Homo sapiens: one gene and its partner. The protein of the gene in region 1 purifies or fractionates together with the protein of each later gene. This does not show direct contact. Each region holds a gene or a part of one and is shown on either strand. Other genes may lie near its edges.

The links.
Region 2: the proteins of CD22 (region 1) and PTPRC purify together in Homo sapiens (affinity purification with western blotting; 2 studies listed by BioGRID and IntAct, with this or other methods). This does not show direct contact.

What each region holds. Positions count from the first base shown.
Region 1 is NC_000019.10:35,338,181-35,347,429, forward strand, and holds the end of CD22 (B-cell receptor CD22 isoform 1 precursor), read left to right. Parts: coding exon 1-251; intron 252-2,700; coding exon 2,701-2,958; intron 2,959-3,162; coding exon 3,163-3,426; intron 3,427-3,521; coding exon 3,522-3,785; intron 3,786-6,648; coding exon 6,649-6,745; intron 6,746-6,870; coding exon 6,871-6,946; intron 6,947-7,332; exon of another isoform or gene 7,333-7,421; coding exon 7,422-7,540; intron 7,541-7,970; coding exon 7,971-8,055; intron 8,056-8,385; coding exon 8,386-8,517; 3' UTR 8,518-9,181; downstream 9,182-9,249. UniProt on the Homo sapiens protein: Most highly expressed siglec (sialic acid-binding immunoglobulin-like lectin) on B-cells that plays a role in various aspects of B-cell biology including differentiation, antigen presentation, and trafficking to bone marrow.
Region 2 is NC_000001.11:198,640,845-198,650,093, reverse strand, and holds part of PTPRC (receptor-type tyrosine-protein phosphatase C isoform 1 precursor), read right to left. Parts: intron 1-9,249. UniProt on the Homo sapiens protein: Protein tyrosine-protein phosphatase required for T-cell activation through the antigen receptor. Acts as a positive regulator of T-cell coactivation upon binding to DPP4.

The DNA of each region.
Region 1 (9,249 bases):
TTCCACGGTTCAGATCCTCCACTCACCGGCTGTGGAGGGAAGTCAAGTCGAGTTTCTTTGCATGTCACTGGCCAATCCTCTTCCAACAAATTACACGTGGTACCACAATGGGAAAGAAATGCAGGGAAGGACAGAGGAGAAAGTCCACATCCCAAAGATCCTCCCCTGGCACGCTGGGACTTATTCCTGTGTGGCAGAAAACATTCTTGGTACTGGACAGAGGGGCCCGGGAGCTGAGCTGGATGTCCAGTGTGAGTAGCCACGGAGCCTCTGGTTCTAGGGAGAGAAGATGGACACAGGGAACGGGGAAGGCAGATGGGGTGCAGGGCATTCCGGGGTCCTGGAGTCAAGAGCAAGGAGCAGCCAGGGTCTCCTGTTCACAACTGCTGTCTCAGCTCCTAGCATAGGGCCTGGCTCATGGAGGGTGCTTGGTAGATGCTTGTTTTTTTGTGTTTTAGTTTTTTTTGAGATGGAGTCTCCCTCTGTCTCCCAGGCTGGAGTGCAGTGGCACAATCTCGGCTCACTGCAAGCTCCACCTTCCCGGGTTCATGCCATTCTCCTGTCTCAGCCTCCTGAGTAGCTGGGATGACAGGCGCCCGCCACCACGCCCGGCTAATTATTTGTACTTTTAGTAGAGACGGGGTTTCACCGTGTTAGCCAGGATGGTCTCGATCTCCTGACCTCGTGATCCACCCGCCTCGGCCTCCCAAAGTGCTGGGATTAGAGGCGTGAGCCACCGCACCCGGCCTGTAGATGCTTGTTGAATGAATGAGGCCAGGTGCGGTGGCTCCCGCCTGCAATCCCAGCTCTTTAGGAGGCTGAGGCAGGAGGGTCTCTTGAACCCAGGAGTTTGAAACCAGCCTGGGCCACACAGCGAGATACCATCTCTACAAAAAAATACAAAAATTAGCTGAGCATGGTGGTGCGTGCCTGTGGTCCCAGCTACTGGGGAGGCTGAGGAGGGAGAATCACTTGAGCCCAGGAAGTGAAGGCTGCAGACTGAACTATGTTCCTGCTACTGCACTCTAGCCTGGGTGACAGAGCAAGACCTGGGTCTCAAAAAGAAAAAGAAAATGCTGGGACTGGGATTATAGGTGTGAGCTGGGCACAGTGGCTCACACTTGTAATCCCAGCACTTTGGGAGGCCAAGGTAGGCAGCTCACTTGAGGCCACGAGTTCAAGCCCAGCCTGGGCAACATGGTAAAACCCCATCTCTACAAAAAAAAATTAGCCTGGCATGGTCATGCATGCCTGTAGTCTCAGCTACCCAGGAGGCTGAGGTGGGAGGATCACCTGAGCCTGGAAGTAGAGGCTGCAGTGAGCCTGTGATCATGCCGCTGCACTCCAGCCTGGGTGACTGAGTGAGACCTTGTCTCAAAAAAAAGAATGGATTGGCCAGGCATGGTGGCTTACGCCTGTAATCCCAGCACTTTGGGAGGCCAAGGTGGGCAGATCACCTGAGGTCAGGAGTTCGAGACCAGCCTGGCCAACATGGCGAAACCCTGTCTCTACTAAAAATACAAAAAATTAGCCGGGCATGGTGGCAGGCACCTGAAATCCACCTACCTGGGAGGCTGAGGCAGGAGAATCGCTTGAACCCAGGAGGCAGAGGTTGCAATGAGCTGAGATCATGTCACTGCACTCTAGCCTGGGTAGAGTGAGATTCTGTCTCCAAAAAAAAAGAATAATTAACTGCAAGATACCAGGACTCCATGAGGGACACAGAGACTTAGCGTCCCTAGGCAGTGGCTGAGTCTTGAGAGATCTTGAAATTTTTAATGAGAACTGGGGCAAACTGTCTCATTACCTCTCCATTGTAAGACCCTTTTAACACAGTGAATCTTGTTACCATGTAGAGCACAGGACAAAAAGAACACATAAGCTCGATCCTTGGACCCTGAGATGTCATATGTGCTAACAGGACAGGGGTGCCCAAATCCTGAGCATCTCAGACAGCTGGATGCGTGACCACAGCAGCCACAGTGATGTTTGTGGAGTGTTTGCCACACGCCACACTCTGCTCTAAGGGAGTCATCTCATTTCCTTCTTGAAACAATTCCCAGGAGGTTAGGAACTCTCAGGACTCACCCCCCACCCACCCCGCACTGCCTCTTGTTTTTAAGATGGAGTCTCCCTCTGTTGCCCAGGCTGGAGTGCAGTGGCTTGATCTCGGCTCACTGCAACCTCCACCTCCCGGGTTCAAGCGATTCTCTTGCCTCGACCACCTGAGTAGCTGGGACTACAGACATGCACCAGCATGCATAGCTAATTTTTAAAATTTTTAGTAGAGACAGGGTTTTGCTGTGTTGGCCAGGTCTCGAACTCCTGACCTCAGGTGATCTGCCCACCTCAGCCTCCCAAAGTGCTGAAATTACAAGCGTGAGCCACCATGCCCGGCCTCAGGACCCCATTTGACAGACGTGTAAACTGAGACCTGCAGCCCATGCCCGTGCGCCTCTCAGCAGCCGTCTGGCTTCAGCGCTGTGCCCTGAACCCCTGCACCAAACCACAGCCAGGCCAGAGAGCCAGGGCAGGGTTTCTGTTCTCACACAGATGCAGGAAGGACGCACAAGCCCCCCTTTGATTAATTTAGGACCTGTGCAGATGCCCGGGACAGGTAGCGGGAGAAGAGGAAGCAGGAGGGAAGGGGTACTGTGGACAGCTGGCTTTTCTTTACTCACCTCTCTGGTTTTCTTCCAGATCCTCCCAAGAAGGTGACCACAGTGATTCAAAACCCCATGCCGATTCGAGAAGGAGACACAGTGACCCTTTCCTGTAACTACAATTCCAGTAACCCCAGTGTTACCCGGTATGAATGGAAACCCCATGGCGCCTGGGAGGAGCCATCGCTTGGGGTGCTGAAGATCCAAAACGTTGGCTGGGACAACACAACCATCGCCTGCGCAGCTTGTAATAGTTGGTGCTCGTGGGCCTCCCCTGTCGCCCTGAATGTCCAGTGTGAGTCCCTGGGCTAGGCAGGGGGATCTGGGAGGTGGCCCGGCTGGGATGAGGGGATGAAGGCAACGAGGCCGGAGCCTGGGCCAGTGTCTTCAACAGAATTGAGGGACAGGAGCCTGGCGTCAGGGCCAAGGGGAGGGGAGGCCTGGGGACAGCAAAAGGGACAGGGAGCGGAGAGGTCAGCTTGGGACCCTTGCCCTCCAGATGCCCCCCGAGACGTGAGGGTCCGGAAAATCAAGCCCCTTTCCGAGATTCACTCTGGAAACTCGGTCAGCCTCCAATGTGACTTCTCAAGCAGCCACCCCAAAGAAGTCCAGTTCTTCTGGGAGAAAAATGGCAGGCTTCTGGGGAAAGAAAGCCAGCTGAATTTTGACTCCATCTCCCCAGAAGATGCTGGGAGTTACAGCTGCTGGGTGAACAACTCCATAGGACAGACAGCGTCCAAGGCCTGGACACTTGAAGTGCTGTGTGAGTGAGGGCCGGAGGCTGGGAGTGGAGCAGAGAAGGGACCAGTGGCCTGCCTGGTAGTGACTTCGCACCCCCTCCCCCTGCCCGCCATGCAGATGCACCCAGGAGGCTGCGTGTGTCCATGAGCCCGGGGGACCAAGTGATGGAGGGGAAGAGTGCAACCCTGACCTGTGAGAGCGACGCCAACCCTCCCGTCTCCCACTACACCTGGTTTGACTGGAATAACCAAAGCCTCCCCTACCACAGCCAGAAGCTGAGATTGGAGCCGGTGAAGGTCCAGCACTCGGGTGCCTACTGGTGCCAGGGGACCAACAGTGTGGGCAAGGGCCGTTCGCCTCTCAGCACCCTCACCGTCTACTGTAAGGCCTCTTCCTGCTCTTGTTCTTCTTGGTGGTGGTCAGTCCTTCCTTCCTTCCTTCCTTCCTTCCTTCCTTCCTTCCTTCCTTCCTTTCTTTCTCTCTTTCTTTTCCTCCTCCTCTTCTTCCCCTCCTCCTCCTCTTCCTCCTTCTTCTTCTTCTTCTGCTTTCTCCCTCTCCTCCTCCTCTTTCTTCTCCTTCTCCTTCCTTCTTCTTCTTCTTATAGAGACAAGGTCTTACTCTGTCACCCAGGCTGGAGTGCAGTCGCATAATGACACCTCACTGCAGCCTCCAATTCCTGGGCTCAAGCAATCCTTTCGCCTCAGCCTCCTGAGTAGCTGGGACTATAGACATGCACCACCACATCCGGCTAATTTTTACATTTTTGTAGAGATGGGGTCTTACTATGTTGACCAGGCTGGTTTCAAACTCCTGACCTCAAGTGACCCTTCTGCCTCAGCTTCCCAAAGCCCTGGGATTAGAGCCATGAGCCACTGTGCCTCTCCCTGTTTCCTCTCATGCTCCTCTCTGGCCCTGTCTCCTCCAGTGACTTCCCGAAAAGCCTTCCAGACCAGCTGGCCCCTTCTTCCCCACCTCACTGTCCCCTTTCCCATTCACACCCCTTGCTCCAGGCCATCTGCCGCTGTGCTGGAGGAGTCGTCTTGTCCTGCGTCACCAGTCTCTCTTTTTCTACCTCCCCTGCAGTCTCTCCTGCCTCCCTCTAGGGTCCCCTCTCAGGCTGCTCCACCTTCCAGAAGTCCTGAGCTCCTACTGGGTCCCTGTCTCTCTCTCTCTGACTACTCTGTCTCTCTCAGCCCTGACAGGCTCCTTGTTTTTATCTTTTAAAACGTAAATGATTTTTTTTTTAAACGGAGTCTCGATCTGTCACCCAGGCTGGAGTGCAGTGGCGTGATCACGGCTCACTGCAAGCTCTGCCTCCCGGGTTCACGCCATTCTCCTGCCTCAGCTCCCCGAGTAGCTGGGACTACAGGCGCCTGCCACCATGCCCGGCTAATTTTTTGTATTTTTAGTAGAGATGTGGTTTCACCGTGGTCTCAGTCTCCTGACCTCGTGATCCGCTCGCCTCGGCCTTCCAAAGTGCTGGGATTACAGGCGTGAGCCACCGCACCCGGCTGATTTTTTTTTTTTTTTTTTGAGACAGGGTCTCACCCTGTTGCACAGGTTGGAGTGCAGTGGCACAATCTCAGCTCCTGCAGCCTCGACCCCCTAGGCTCAAGTGATACTCCTGCCTCGGCCTCCACAGTAGTAAACTTGAGTGGTTTTTAAACAGATCATACAAGCACCTGGTAAAAAAATAAAATGTAAGCATGAAAGGGTAAATAGTGGAAAGACAGACGCGGCTCACTCTTGATCCCTGAGAACTCTCATCCCCACCAAAGGTCCTCACTGCACACAGTCTTCCCATCTCACTGCACACAGTCTTCCCATCTCCTCCAGGGGTATTTTTCACACGCACAATTCACACACAGAGGTCTGTGCCTATATACCCTTCCTCATGACACAGACGAGGCAGAGCCCACACTTTGCCTGGGAATTTTCTTTGCTTTTTTCCATGTAATAATACTGTTTGGACATTGTTCTGTATCTATGCATACACAGAGTGTCTAAAGTCTGGAGGCTGGGCATGGTGGTTCATGCCTGTAATCCCAACACTTTGAGAGGCCATGGTGGGAGGATCACTTGAGCCCAGGAGTTTGAGACCAGCCTGGGCAACATAGCCCACACCTCATAGCAGGATCTCATCTCTACAAAAAATACCAAAAAAAATTTTAAAAACGAACAAACAAAACAATAACAACAACAAAAAAGAGTCTGAAAGCATATGGAAGATACCTAATTAATTTATTGTACTTTTTCAGATTAATAATTGGAAACATGGCCTTAAATTGAGGGAACCTGACCAGGCACAGTGGCTCACGCCTGTAATCCCAGCACTTTGGGAGGCCAAAGTGGGTGGCCACAAGCACTTTGGGAGGCCACAAGGTGGGTGGATCACTTGAGGCCAGGAGTTCCAGACCAGCCTGGCCAATGGTGAAACCCCATCTCTACTAAAAATACAAAAATTAGCTGGGTGTGGTGGCGCGCACCTGTAGTCCCAACTACTCGGGAGGCTGAGGCAGGAGAATCGCTTGAACCCGGGAGGCAGAGGTTGCAGTGAGCCAAGATCTCACCACTGCACTCCAGCCTGGGTGAAAGAGCGAGACTCTGTCTCAATCAATCAATCAGTCAATCTAGGGAACCATCACCAGCACGGCCGAAGGCCAAAGGAAAACATCTGAAACATGTTATCTGGAAATGTAACAGACACATCCCATCATATAAAACCATTGTTCCCTGGGTATCCCCTTTGCAGACAGCCTGAGAGCCTCCTCTTTTTCCTGGGGCCATGGAGTCCTCGCGTATGAAGGTTGCATACATCCTCCTCCCAGTGCCCTCTTCAGGGCCTAGGTCTGCAGCCTCTTGTTTTGGGCACGCCTGCAAGGACAGTTGCAAGATGCATTCCCATGTGGAATTGCTGGGTGGAAGACAGGTGCACTTTCAGAGCTGATCACACAGCTATACTGCCGTGAAGAGCTGCACCCATTTATGCGGGTGCGGGTCACAGGCTCTGGGCGTGCCACGTCTGTGGGAAAAGCAGCTCCTCAGGAGAATTAGTGCCTTATTCCTAAAGGGAGGCCCAGAGCAAGCAGGGGCCGTTGTCACCCTCTTCCTCTGCACCCCTGCACGCATGCAGGGGAGAAGGACGAGTCTGGCTGCAGAGAGAAGTCCAGGATGCCTTCCAGGCAAAGGCTGCCAGGGAGAGCTGGCCCCTCAGTTGATTAAGGTCTCTCCTTTCTCCACCCAGATAGCCCGGAGACCATCGGCAGGCGAGTGGCTGTGGGACTCGGGTCCTGCCTCGCCATCCTCATCCTGGCAATCTGTGGGCTCAAGCTCCAGCGACGGTGAGCTCCTGCCATCCCCCACCACCTCCTCTATCCCTTGGCAGAGGCCCGTGTCCAGTTGCTCCATCTCGAAGCCTCCAGCCTGTGGAGTCCCTGACCCTCACACATGTGCCTTTATTTCTCAGTTGGAAGAGGACACAGAGCCAGCAGGGGCTTCAGGAGAATTCCAGCGGCCAGAGCTTCTTTGTGAGGAATAAAAAGGTAGGATGGGGCTGGGCACGATGGCTCATGCCTGTAATCCCAGCACTTTGGGAGGCTGAGGCAGGTGGATCACCTGAGGTCAGGAGTTCGAGACCAGCGTAGCCAACATGGTGAAACCCTGTCTCTACAAAAAATATTTTAAAAATTAGCCGGGCGTGATGGTCCATGCCTGTAATTCCAGCTACTCGGGAGGCTGAGGCAGGAGAATCGCTTGAACCTGGGAGGCAGAGGTTGCAGTGAGCCAAGATTGCGCCATTGCACTCCAGCCTGGGTGACATACTGAGACTCTGCCTCAAAAAAAAAAAAAAAAAAAAAAAAAGGGTAGGCATGAGGCAGACTGTGAAGCTGAGTGGGGAAACAAGGTGAAGGAAGGGGATAAAATGTCCTCTGAGGAGACCTGGGCTGTCAGAGGCCAGGGAAGGGGACGAGGGTTGGGGAACAGGTGGTTAGCACTTCATCCTCGTCTCCCTCCCAGGTTAGAAGGGCCCCCCTCTCTGAAGGCCCCCACTCCCTGGGATGCTACAATCCAATGATGGAAGATGGCATTAGCTACACCACCCTGCGCTTTCCCGAGATGAACATACCACGAACTGGGTACTGAGGGTACCAGGAGGGTGACCCTGCACCCTGGGAGGGAGGCGGGAGGAAAAGCTCTGTCCCGCCTGCCCTCTTTGTGCCAGGCCCATGCCAGGCACCCTGATACATGCTCTGCCTCATTCCCACTCGGCAACAAGCCTCTGGGTAAGGGCCAGTCTCCAGAAGTGGACCTGCTCCTTCAAGTCAGCAGCACACATGCCCAGTCCGTTCTTATCACAAAGATCAAGACCTCATGATACACACCCACGCCTACTCCCTCCACGCACATTTGCACGAGCTCCTACTGTGAGCTTTGGGCACTGGGGAGGCCACAGGTTTTACATAAGGGGCTGAGGTTGGGGTGCTGTTGGGGGCTCTGGGTGTTGAGAGGGAGGAGAGTTCGTGGGAGATGCTTCATGCGTGGTCGTCTATCTGCCCTGTCTCTCAGAGATGCAGAGTCCTCAGAGATGCAGAGACCTCCCCCGGACTGCGATGACACGGTCACTTATTCAGCATTGCACAAGCGCCAAGTGGTAAGGAGGGTCTCCCCAGGTCTCCCCAGAGGGGCTGTGGAAGGCTGGGGACAGGGCCTGGCCTCAGTGGTGGGTCCCACATAGGAAGGAGTTGGGTAGGCATCCGTGGTGGCAGAGGTTGGGTGTTGGAGACGGTTGCTCCGGCAGAGCTGGCCAGAGCCAGGCAGGTACCTCCAGGTCCTGGATGCCGGCCACAGCCAGTTTCCTGACACGAGGACACCCGCCTGGGCTTTTGGACCCCCGGGTGGAATGAAGGAGAGAATGCGGAGAAAAGCGGCGGTGGAGGCTGGCGACAGTGGGGCCAGGCTAACCACCATGCGGTTTTCTCAGGGCGACTATGAGAACGTCATTCCAGATTTTCCAGAAGATGAGGGGATTCATTACTCAGAGCTGATCCAGTTTGGGGTCGGGGAGCGGCCTCAGGCACAAGAAAATGTGGACTATGTGATCCTCAAACATTGACACTGGATGGGCTGCAGCAGAGGCACTGGGGGCAGCGGGGGCCAGGGAAGTCCCCGAGTTTCCCCAGACACCGCCACATGGCTTCCTCCTGCGCGCATGTGCGCACACACACACACACACGCACACACACACACACACACTCACTGCGGAGAACCTTGTGCCTGGCTCAGAGCCAGTCTTTTTGGTGAGGGTAACCCCAAACCTCCAAAACTCCTGCCCCTGTTCTCTTCCACTCTCCTTGCTACCCAGAAATCCATCTAAATACCTGCCCTGACATGCACACCTCCCCCTGCCCCCACCACGGCCACTGGCCATCTCCACCCCCAGCTGCTTGTGTCCCTCCTGGGATCTGCTCGTCATCATTTTTCCTTCCCTTCTCCATCTCTCTGGCCCTCTACCCCTGATCTGACATCCCCACTCACGAATATTATGCCCAGTTTCTGCCTCTGAGGGAAAGCCCAGAAAAGGACAGAAACGAAGTAGAAAGGGGCCCAGTCCTGGCCTGGCTTCTCCTTTGGAAGTGAGGCATTGCACGGGGAGACGTACGTATCAGCGGCCCCTTGACTCTGGGGACTCCGGGTTTGAGATGGACACACTGGTGTGGATTAACCTGCCAGGGAGACAGAGCTCACAATAAAAATGGCTCAGATGCCACTTCAAAGAACCAGTGAACTCTTTTCAGTCTGTGGAGTCAGAGTGGGGATGAGGAGAGGGGAAAGTCTTCATGGGGCC
Region 2 (9,249 bases), on another chromosome or scaffold:
ACCAATTTGTTTGGTTTTGCCAGATAACCTTTACTCTTGCCAGTCTCCCTCACATGGATCCCCATATTCTTGTCAGCCAACAGGTAGCTCAATGATTCTTCTTCATAAGGATCTTCCCCGATCACTCTGTCTAAAAGTGCATTCACCCCTAAATCTGGGTCTGGCCAGATTAAACTCTACCATATTACACTACTTAATTTTCTTCACAGCATTTATCTATAACTGAAGTTATCTCAATTTGTTGTTTGTTTTCTTGTTATCTCTCACCACTAGGAAGTCAGTTTCATAAAAGTAGTTACACTTTCTGCTTTCTTTACCACTGTGTCAACACTTAAAACAGTTTTTAGCTTAGCAGGGGCTCTATAAACAATTGATGAATCGATGAGTGAATCATCTCATTTAATATCTCTTGCTATTATTTCCATTTTACACACGAGGAAACTGAGGCTTTGGAAGGTAATTCTTCCCCAATTTTTCATCATTGGAAGTCTCCAATGATGAAACTGGAATGGAATCCGGGCAAGATTTCAAAGACTGACTTCTTTAAGTACTTTAAAAGTAGCGATTGTCTGAATCCAACATTTGCACTAAAGTTTCTTCAAGTTACTTTTATCAGCTCCCTGACCTTTTCCTTTTTCTTTGGTTTATCTGTTTCCTTCATATCACCACTTCCTTTCCGTCAAAACTCTCAACTGATGTCTTATGCTTCATTTATGTTTCCTTAGCCATTACATACCTTTATCATACCTAAAGCATCAATAAGTAAATTCAGAAAATAAGAACATGGGTCATTGGAAAGTAGAAATACATAGAGTTTAGTAAGCATAGTTAAAATCTTATTTTATAAACCAGACTATCTGGAAATCTAAGTCTAAGAAGTCAAAGTATAATATTTGGCCTAAATTATATGATTGGAATCCACATTTATCAAATGAACCAAACAATAATTTTTTTTTGTTTTGTTTTAGTCTCCTCAAAGTTTAGCCAACTTGTCTCTGGAATAAAAAGTGTAGGATGGATTTACCTGGTTCACTTAATATGCTTTTTGGATGACTATGAAAAGATTATCTAGTGTCTACACTTCCTGGAATAAGATGAGAACCTTATGTGTTTTCCATGATCAAAGTGTTTAACAAAGGTCAAGTTACTTCCCTTGCACTTCAAAAACAAAAAAAAATCTAGATACTTTGGTGAATTATTTAATGTTTTTCACTTTATGTAATATCAAAAATGAGTTGGGTGGGGGAAAATCCATTCTTTCCATCATATCACTCACCTCAAGACAGACTCAGTCCTGTCCTTTGTTAGCCTCCTTTTCAGGATGATTGTAACACATCACATCAGTATTCATAGTGAAGACAAATTAATCAAAGATGTCTTTTTGTTTTTTATAAAAGTCATACAATCTTATGTGAATTTTACATAGATACAGAATATGCTAAAGATATAGAAGCAGCTCAGTGCACAATGGTTCATGTAAGTAGCTAAATCAGGTGAATGAACTTACATGCATATGTCACACAAACAACCTCTGAGAAATTACCAGCTCCCATTCAGTCCTGCTGTGATTTGCCCATCATCACACAGTCATGTCTTAAATTCCAGGTTATTAAACTGACCACTAAGAAGATTGAGTAACCGAGTGGAAAATCTAGAATCTGGTCTATCTAGAATCAGATAGACCCCGATTAAGACCCCAGCCTTCACCCCACCCCCTACAACTCTCATTTGCTATTAGCTGGTGACCTTGGAAAATTAGAAAGACTACCAAAAAAAAGTAAGAATTTGTTTGTGTGCTGTGTATTTCTGTATGTTTTCCCTTTTCTCTCCACATAAACATTTTTTCAGAATAAATTACAAAACAAACAAACCAAAACAAAATAGGACTATTGTCTAGTACCTCTTCACATCTACCAACTTTATTTATTGAATATCTAATAATAATCTACACAACTCAGTGGCAGCACCAGAACTTCCATAATTTAAAAGTCTGCAAAGAAAATCTGGTTGTAACAGGGACCTGGAGGAAGTCTTGTAAGAATATAAGTTTTACTTAATATGTTATATATAGATCTTAAGATAGTGATTTTTAAATTTATAATTTATAAAACATTGATAACACCAATAATTATCTGTAGCAAGGTATGTTGTTACTTTGAGGAGGAAGTTTTGGGGTGCTGATGAAGATTTTGGAAGATTTAAAACACCATCTCCAAGAAGCCACTGATAGAAAATACGGGCTTCATGGGATAGGTGTCCTCAGCCCAAATTACATGGAAAACACTCACAAAATAGTTGTTTATCAAATGAACTAATAAGTTAATAAATAACTGAATAGATCTAGTTGTCCTAGTCAAATGAAATACTCAAAAAGTTTTTAGATCCTGAGAACTGGAAACCTGAAATTCTTATTTTTCTATTCATTTCTATATTTTTCAAATTGTCTAGAATAATCAAGGTTTACTTGGGAAAAAATTGAACATGAAATTTCATACACAGCATGTGATCAAAAGATAGAGGAAGAAAAACAAAATGTTAGCATGGGCTCTAAGCAATTTCTTTTTCCTTCTATTTCTTGACATTTTCCAAATTTTCTATTATGTAGAAATTTTTACCATAAATAATTCCCATAAATAACAATAAAAGGACAGAATCAAAATTGTTTTTAAGAATTATTAAGTGCCTTCTACATACAGAGTTGGGTTAAGCTGACAGACCATTCGTTTGTTCAGCAAACAGGTACTGAGGACCTGCAGGCACTGGCAAATAAGCAGAGACCCAGTGATAGCCTACATGAGCTCACCAGTTGCTGCAAGAGAGCCTGGTAAAGAGAACTCCAAGAGAATTATTCAAAGGATCATCACAGCAGAAGAATACCTATGCAGGTGTGAAAGGGGCTGAAGAGCAAGGGTTATACAAGTGGGATAGGGGCTGTCTAGAGGACATGATCTTTACAGTAAATTTGAATACAATTTATAATTTGCACCATTGATAAAAAGATGTGGAGAGAAGGAAAAACAGCATGGCCAACAGTAGGAAGACCAAACAAGGTCACATTTTTAGAAAAATGCAAGTTACAAAAAGAGTCACAAAGTGGTTAGAGATAAAGCCAGACAAATCTGAAGAGATTCAATTACATATGTGTGTGCAATGCTAATTGCTTTTATTTTTCCTAAATGCACAAAGACCAAAGTAGGATGATTTGACACTTTCCCCACACACTATTTTACATTGAGAAGATTTTAAACTTATCACCTTGATTCTTCTCTTTACTTTTTGCTCCAATAATGAATAAGAAATTGGTACTAAGTGTGAAAGCTAATAAGAGGAATACCATACAAATGAATGAGAATTCAAACATAATAATTCCAGGCTATCAAGCAGTCTTAAAAGTGTTTCTAAAGTTTCTATTGGCTAGATAAGAAATAATCGAAAGTCTTAAAATTTCAAAATGAATCTAGCTCAAAGAGCTGTCAATCTCCACATTAATGTCACTGATAGAAATTTCAACACAACAAAAAATTGAGAATGGTTAATATTGCCCGATTTAAGTTTGACAAAAATGAAAAATTACATAAATTATATTTTTTGTAGCATTGAGACACAAAACCAATTAAAAAAACTAAACTAGCGGTAGCCAAAACTACACACAGAAAATGTTTCTGGCCAAAGAGAAGAATTTAAATGGTTTTGGAAAATTTAGATCTGTATTGTTTGAAAAGAAGAATTACCTTTAGAAAAGTAATAATCACAAAGGAAAATTCCAAGCATAAGCTATATTCAGTAGAACTTGACATGGGTAAAATGGATTCATGAATCTAATAGTTATTGTAAAAATTAAATGAAAGTGATGCTGCTAAACATTAGTTCAGTAAAATTAAAATTAAAATGGAAAAACTGCCAAGGATTTCACTAGGTAATATATATATAATCATCAGGGAATTAAATTGGTCTAATGGAGTTTTTTTCCTCCAAAATTTATCTTTAAGGAAAACTCATAAATGTTGGTATATTCTAATTAAATATTTGTTTTCATAAAAGTTGAGCCAAAACATACTTGGTATCAAATCACGGGTTCAGTATATTTTCTACCAATAGGAGCTTTTAAAAGAGGAATGGACAAAGGTAAGTTCTGCCTTTTACAAAGATTATCCTGGTAATGGTGGGTATGGACACAGTAAGGATTGAAGGCAGGTGAGACTTCAGGATATTTTTACACTAAGAAATCCCTGGCAAAGTAGAAGTGTGTGGATTTACAAACTATTTAGACTGTAGAATCTGGAGAAGCCTGAAAAATCTCTGAAATAAAGAATGCAAAGTTAAAAGAATTCAAAGGCCTATAAGGGATTATGCCTCTATCACTTAACCTTAAACTATCCCTTTATCTGCTCACAGTGTCTGAAAGGAAGAGATATCATTTGGAATCAAGTTTATGCTAAAAGGCTATGTGCTCTGATTTCATGGGCTCACATGAAAAAATTTACTTCTCAGAGTATCACATAATTTCAAAGCATTTTCACAAATATTATAACTTTTAATGCTTACAACACTTTATAGATGAGGAAATTGGGTCTCAAGGGTGAAAATTGATTTAGCTAAAAATCACAAGATTCATAGAGTTAGATTTTCAAAATATTTATCACTACAGATGTCATGATGTTTCCCAGCTTGGAGTGGTTTCTGCCTCATTTTCTATTATGCTTAATATGTTTTATCAGTAAATTATTATATTTTTCATCAAGTGGATGTGTTTAAAATATAGTGGCCACACTGTATTGCCATGATATTTATTGTGATTTTGATATTGTCTCTTAGCATCATTGTTATTTGTATAGGTTTCTCTAAACTATCTCTTGAATGACCACAGACAAATTGTACTTTAATTTAAAATGCAGAGAATGTCTTCTTGTCTATCAGTGATTTCTATCAAGTTTGCTATACCAGCTGTTCATATCCTAATACGTATGAGTGTGTTACCTGAGTTACCCTCAACTTTTGCCTTCTACTCCTACATTAGCAAATCCCTATTTTGGAGGGTGGATGGTTTTCTTCCAGGTATGCAAATTTTGATTATATTCTTAAATAAATGAATGATGATCATTTATACTTCAATATAATTGCATTGTAATTACAGTTTTATAATAAATACCCTGTATAGTAGAAACTGAAGTTTCAGTTAGGTGGCTTTTTCCTTTCAGACACTTGACTCATTTTTAGAGGAAATAAATATTGAATCTTTAAATACTATAGAGTTAAGCACCATAGAATATATTTGTTTAAGCTCGGTCTCTACTAAAATCTCTAATAAAAACTGATAATTTTGCTGATTGTCTGTTAAGAAATCAATCAATTGAAGGTACTATGAATGGATATAGAAGATGCTTGTTTACTTCACTAATATTGACTTTATGTGTATTTATTCTTGTCCTAGATGAAAGAGTAGGAAAGCTTTTGTTTCTCTATTTGTTCTTGTTTTTTGTTGTGATTCCTGAACATATAATTCTCTGCTTATAGTAGTCATTCCTAGACTCTTTTAACAGACTGATATTGAAGTAGCACACTGACATACAAACAGGAATGAAGATTAAATATTTTAGACAATAATTAGATATTTTCTAATATAAATATTGGTTAGAGCCAGGTACACAAAATCCAGTGATTGCCATAATTTTTATTCCTGTATATTTGGGTATTATATAGAAATAGGCATCAAATCATATTGCTAAAGTCTTGCCATATTTTTTTTCTGGTGTATCATATCTTAAAAAGTGAGGTCTTTATGTATGCAAAAGTCATAGCACTAAGCCTTTGGTAAAAGGCCACTGCTATGGGATTGAGTATCTAGTACTTACAAAGATATTTAGACTAGACAGAAATTAATTTTAAACTGAAGATATGTTAAATTTCCATTCTAATTGTTTCCCATGTAAATAACTACATAAATCTATAAGATGTCTAGAAAAAAAAATCAAAGGTCAGCACTGATGAAAAATTTCTCTCTCTGCACCAAGGTGACATATACACACATGGTCTGAAGATGAAACCTTGCCTTTGTGAACATTGTGTATTTACCAAGAGAATGAATCAACCTCAGTACAAATCTCTGCCCCTTACCTACTCAGATTGACATTCATCACCACACTGTCTGTAAAGAAATTATTCCCAGCTCTCTACAAACTTTTGTCGTGCAAATAATGCAACACCTAGGGTGCACCATATTCCATCTGCCCTTGCAAGCAATCCCAGAGCACTAGCATCAGTGTTCAAACCAGCAATTGCCATGACTGGACCTGATCTGTTTGTGTTATCACTCCGCTACATTTGTATTTCCCTCCCATTCCTTGCTTTTTCTCCTATGGGTATGTGTATCTGAAAAATAAAATTGACCCTCCAAATTACATTACCTAGAATGTCCAAAGAGCAGATCAAAGAAAATTTAGGAAAAACATTCTCAAACTATGAACTTTTAGGAAGTCAGGAGGCTCTTTCCAGACGAGAGGTGAGATAAGGAGAGTAAGAAAGGGAGCAAAGAAAAAACAAACAAACAAACAAACAAAAACAAAAAGGCAAGACTGTAAACATCTAGATCCAAAATCAACTTAATTTAATCTGGACAAAATAGTCCTGCTGTCTTCATCCTCCCACTTCGCCTCTGGTTAATTTTTTTATCTCATATTCTCCCTCTTTTTGACTTCCCTCTTTGAAAATTTTCCTTTCCTTTGTCACTACAATATGCAGTTTTATTTTTTTAATCTATGATTTATTCAGTGTCTGGTGAAAAATTAGGTATGGGAACTATGAGTTTATGCCTTTTGTGTCTCCTATACCTGATTTCATGTAGGTTACAATGTCAAGAAATCCACTAATTCACATGTCATCATCATCATCAATCATCATCACAAAAAAGAGCAGATTGAAATGACTTGAAAAATGCCAAGAAAAGGTGATAAAAAGTGTGCAATTCAATGGAAATATTTTGTGGCAAAAGTGACATAAGAGAACATAATAGAAGAAGTAGGATTTGCCCAGAACCTTAAACACCTTGAGAAAGTATAGAGGTGGGTGTTAAAACTACCTCCTGTTTGTTTTCTTTTAATCAATCATAGAAGAAAAAGAAAGAAAAAAGAAAGAAAGAAAGAAAGAAAGAAAGAAAGAAAGAAAGAAAGAAAGAAAGAAAGAAAGAAAGGAAGAAAGAAAGAAAAGAAAAAAGATCCCTTCCCAGCTCCAGGCCTAGCCCCCAGATCATTAGTGGAACCAGTTTCTCTGGCAAAAAAGATTAGAATTTATACCAAAGGCAATGAGAAGAAATCAGTAACCCTTCACTTTTTATTTTACTTTTTAAGCTGTAGATTACATTAAAAAAAGGATGAGACTTCAGACTGATTAAAAAAACTATTACAATTTTACAGGTGAGAAATAATAAAGCCATGAATTAAGATGATGGCAATGGAGGTGTCAAAGCAAGAAGTTATTAGAGATTATTACAAAGCAAAATTTCAGGACTTGGGGAGCATGTTAATGTCTGGATTTAGGAAAGGTAGTAAGTTCCGTGTTTCTGAGGGATGAGTCTAGAGATGGAGAATCAGAGTGATCAACACATAGTAGGCAATGATACGTAACCAAATGGAGAAAAGAGAACACAGGCGAAGGTCTGAAGTTCATGGGAACGCCAAATAGACAAACATGGAGAACTGATAGATAGATAGATAGATAGATAGATAGACAGATAGATAGATTGACTAGTATATATAACCCACAAATATATAACTAGTTTATGTGTGAGTATCTACATAAAGAAATATATGTTCAAGTATATGAACAATGTAGAAACATCTATATTTCTATACTGGTTAATTGTCACTGGTGAGAGGATAGCAAATAGTCCAGAACAAAGAAAGAACTAAGTTCAAGCTAACTACTCTGCCCCTATACTTACTTACACAGAACAAAAGAGAAAAAGATAATATAGGCCCTAGCCGTAGTCTTTCCTGTAACAAAGTACATTTCAAACTTTAGCAATGATAAAGGTCACAGGCAGGTTTTTAGTAGGACATTTTTTTTCAAATTAATAAGTAATTCTAATCACATTCCCAAATCTCTAAATTATGGAGTATTTAGAACTTAATAGGACTGCTTACCAAATTCAATTAAATAATTTTCATTGAATGTCTGTGATGTGCAAGGCACAGTCCATGTTTATAACATGAGATATATATTTTTAATACAGATGGAAAAATGAAGAATTATGTCCAGGAAATGAGTCTTAACTGTTATGACTCATAACAAAACTCATCATATACCTCACATACCATAACTCATATACTCCTAACTGCCATGCTATAGTGTGGTAGATCTGCCTGGCATTACAACTTTATTAGAACCAGAGAACACTCACCTTCACCTGCCTTCTTAAAACCATCATTGTCCCCTAACATTATTTAGAAATTCTAAACAAAGTTTGGCTTCCAGTTGCCATGGCAAAGAGGCACAGAGCAAGAGGATTAGGAAGTCTTGAGTAAAACTGAACCCTGCCTGGTTGTTGCCGTGGCAAAGATTAACTTTGGCCTTGTCCGTGTGTGCATTTTAGATATTAAATAAAATATTTGAATTATGCATAGAGTTACCATTGATGGCTCTCTACATTTGGCTCTATTTCTTTATGCCTTTACAGCATACAATATAAATTTTGTTCCCCAAAAGTTTATTATTTCCTGTAGGCACTAAACTAATTTTAACACGTTAAAATGAAACATAGAATCCAACTCATTTGTTGCTAAAAAAGAAAAATAAATAATTTAAAGCATTAAGAATTTTCCAAATTATACATTAAATCACAAAATGTTTCTTGCAACTTGAAAGGATTATAAACAATATTTGCAGATACAAATGATTATATCTGTATATGTTTTTCCACAAATAAGCATATATCTCAGGGAGTCTACAAATGTCTTTTAGAAAAATGTTTGCTCTCAATATTTATGTGAGCAACTGAAGATAAAGTTGAGTTTTCAAAATAAATTTATGTATATCCATTTATTTGCTATGGTATAAATCATTCAGCAAAGTTGATATAAAGGTTTCTAGACCCCATCATATTATTTCAATTATAAATTCAAAGATGTGTCTTATGGTTAAAAAAACATCCTGTAATAGAATGAGTTGAATTTTTATTCACAAAGGAAATATTTCACACTCTGATTTAAGCATATAATAGGATATTTGGTCTATTCAGGAGGTTGGGAAGTTTGC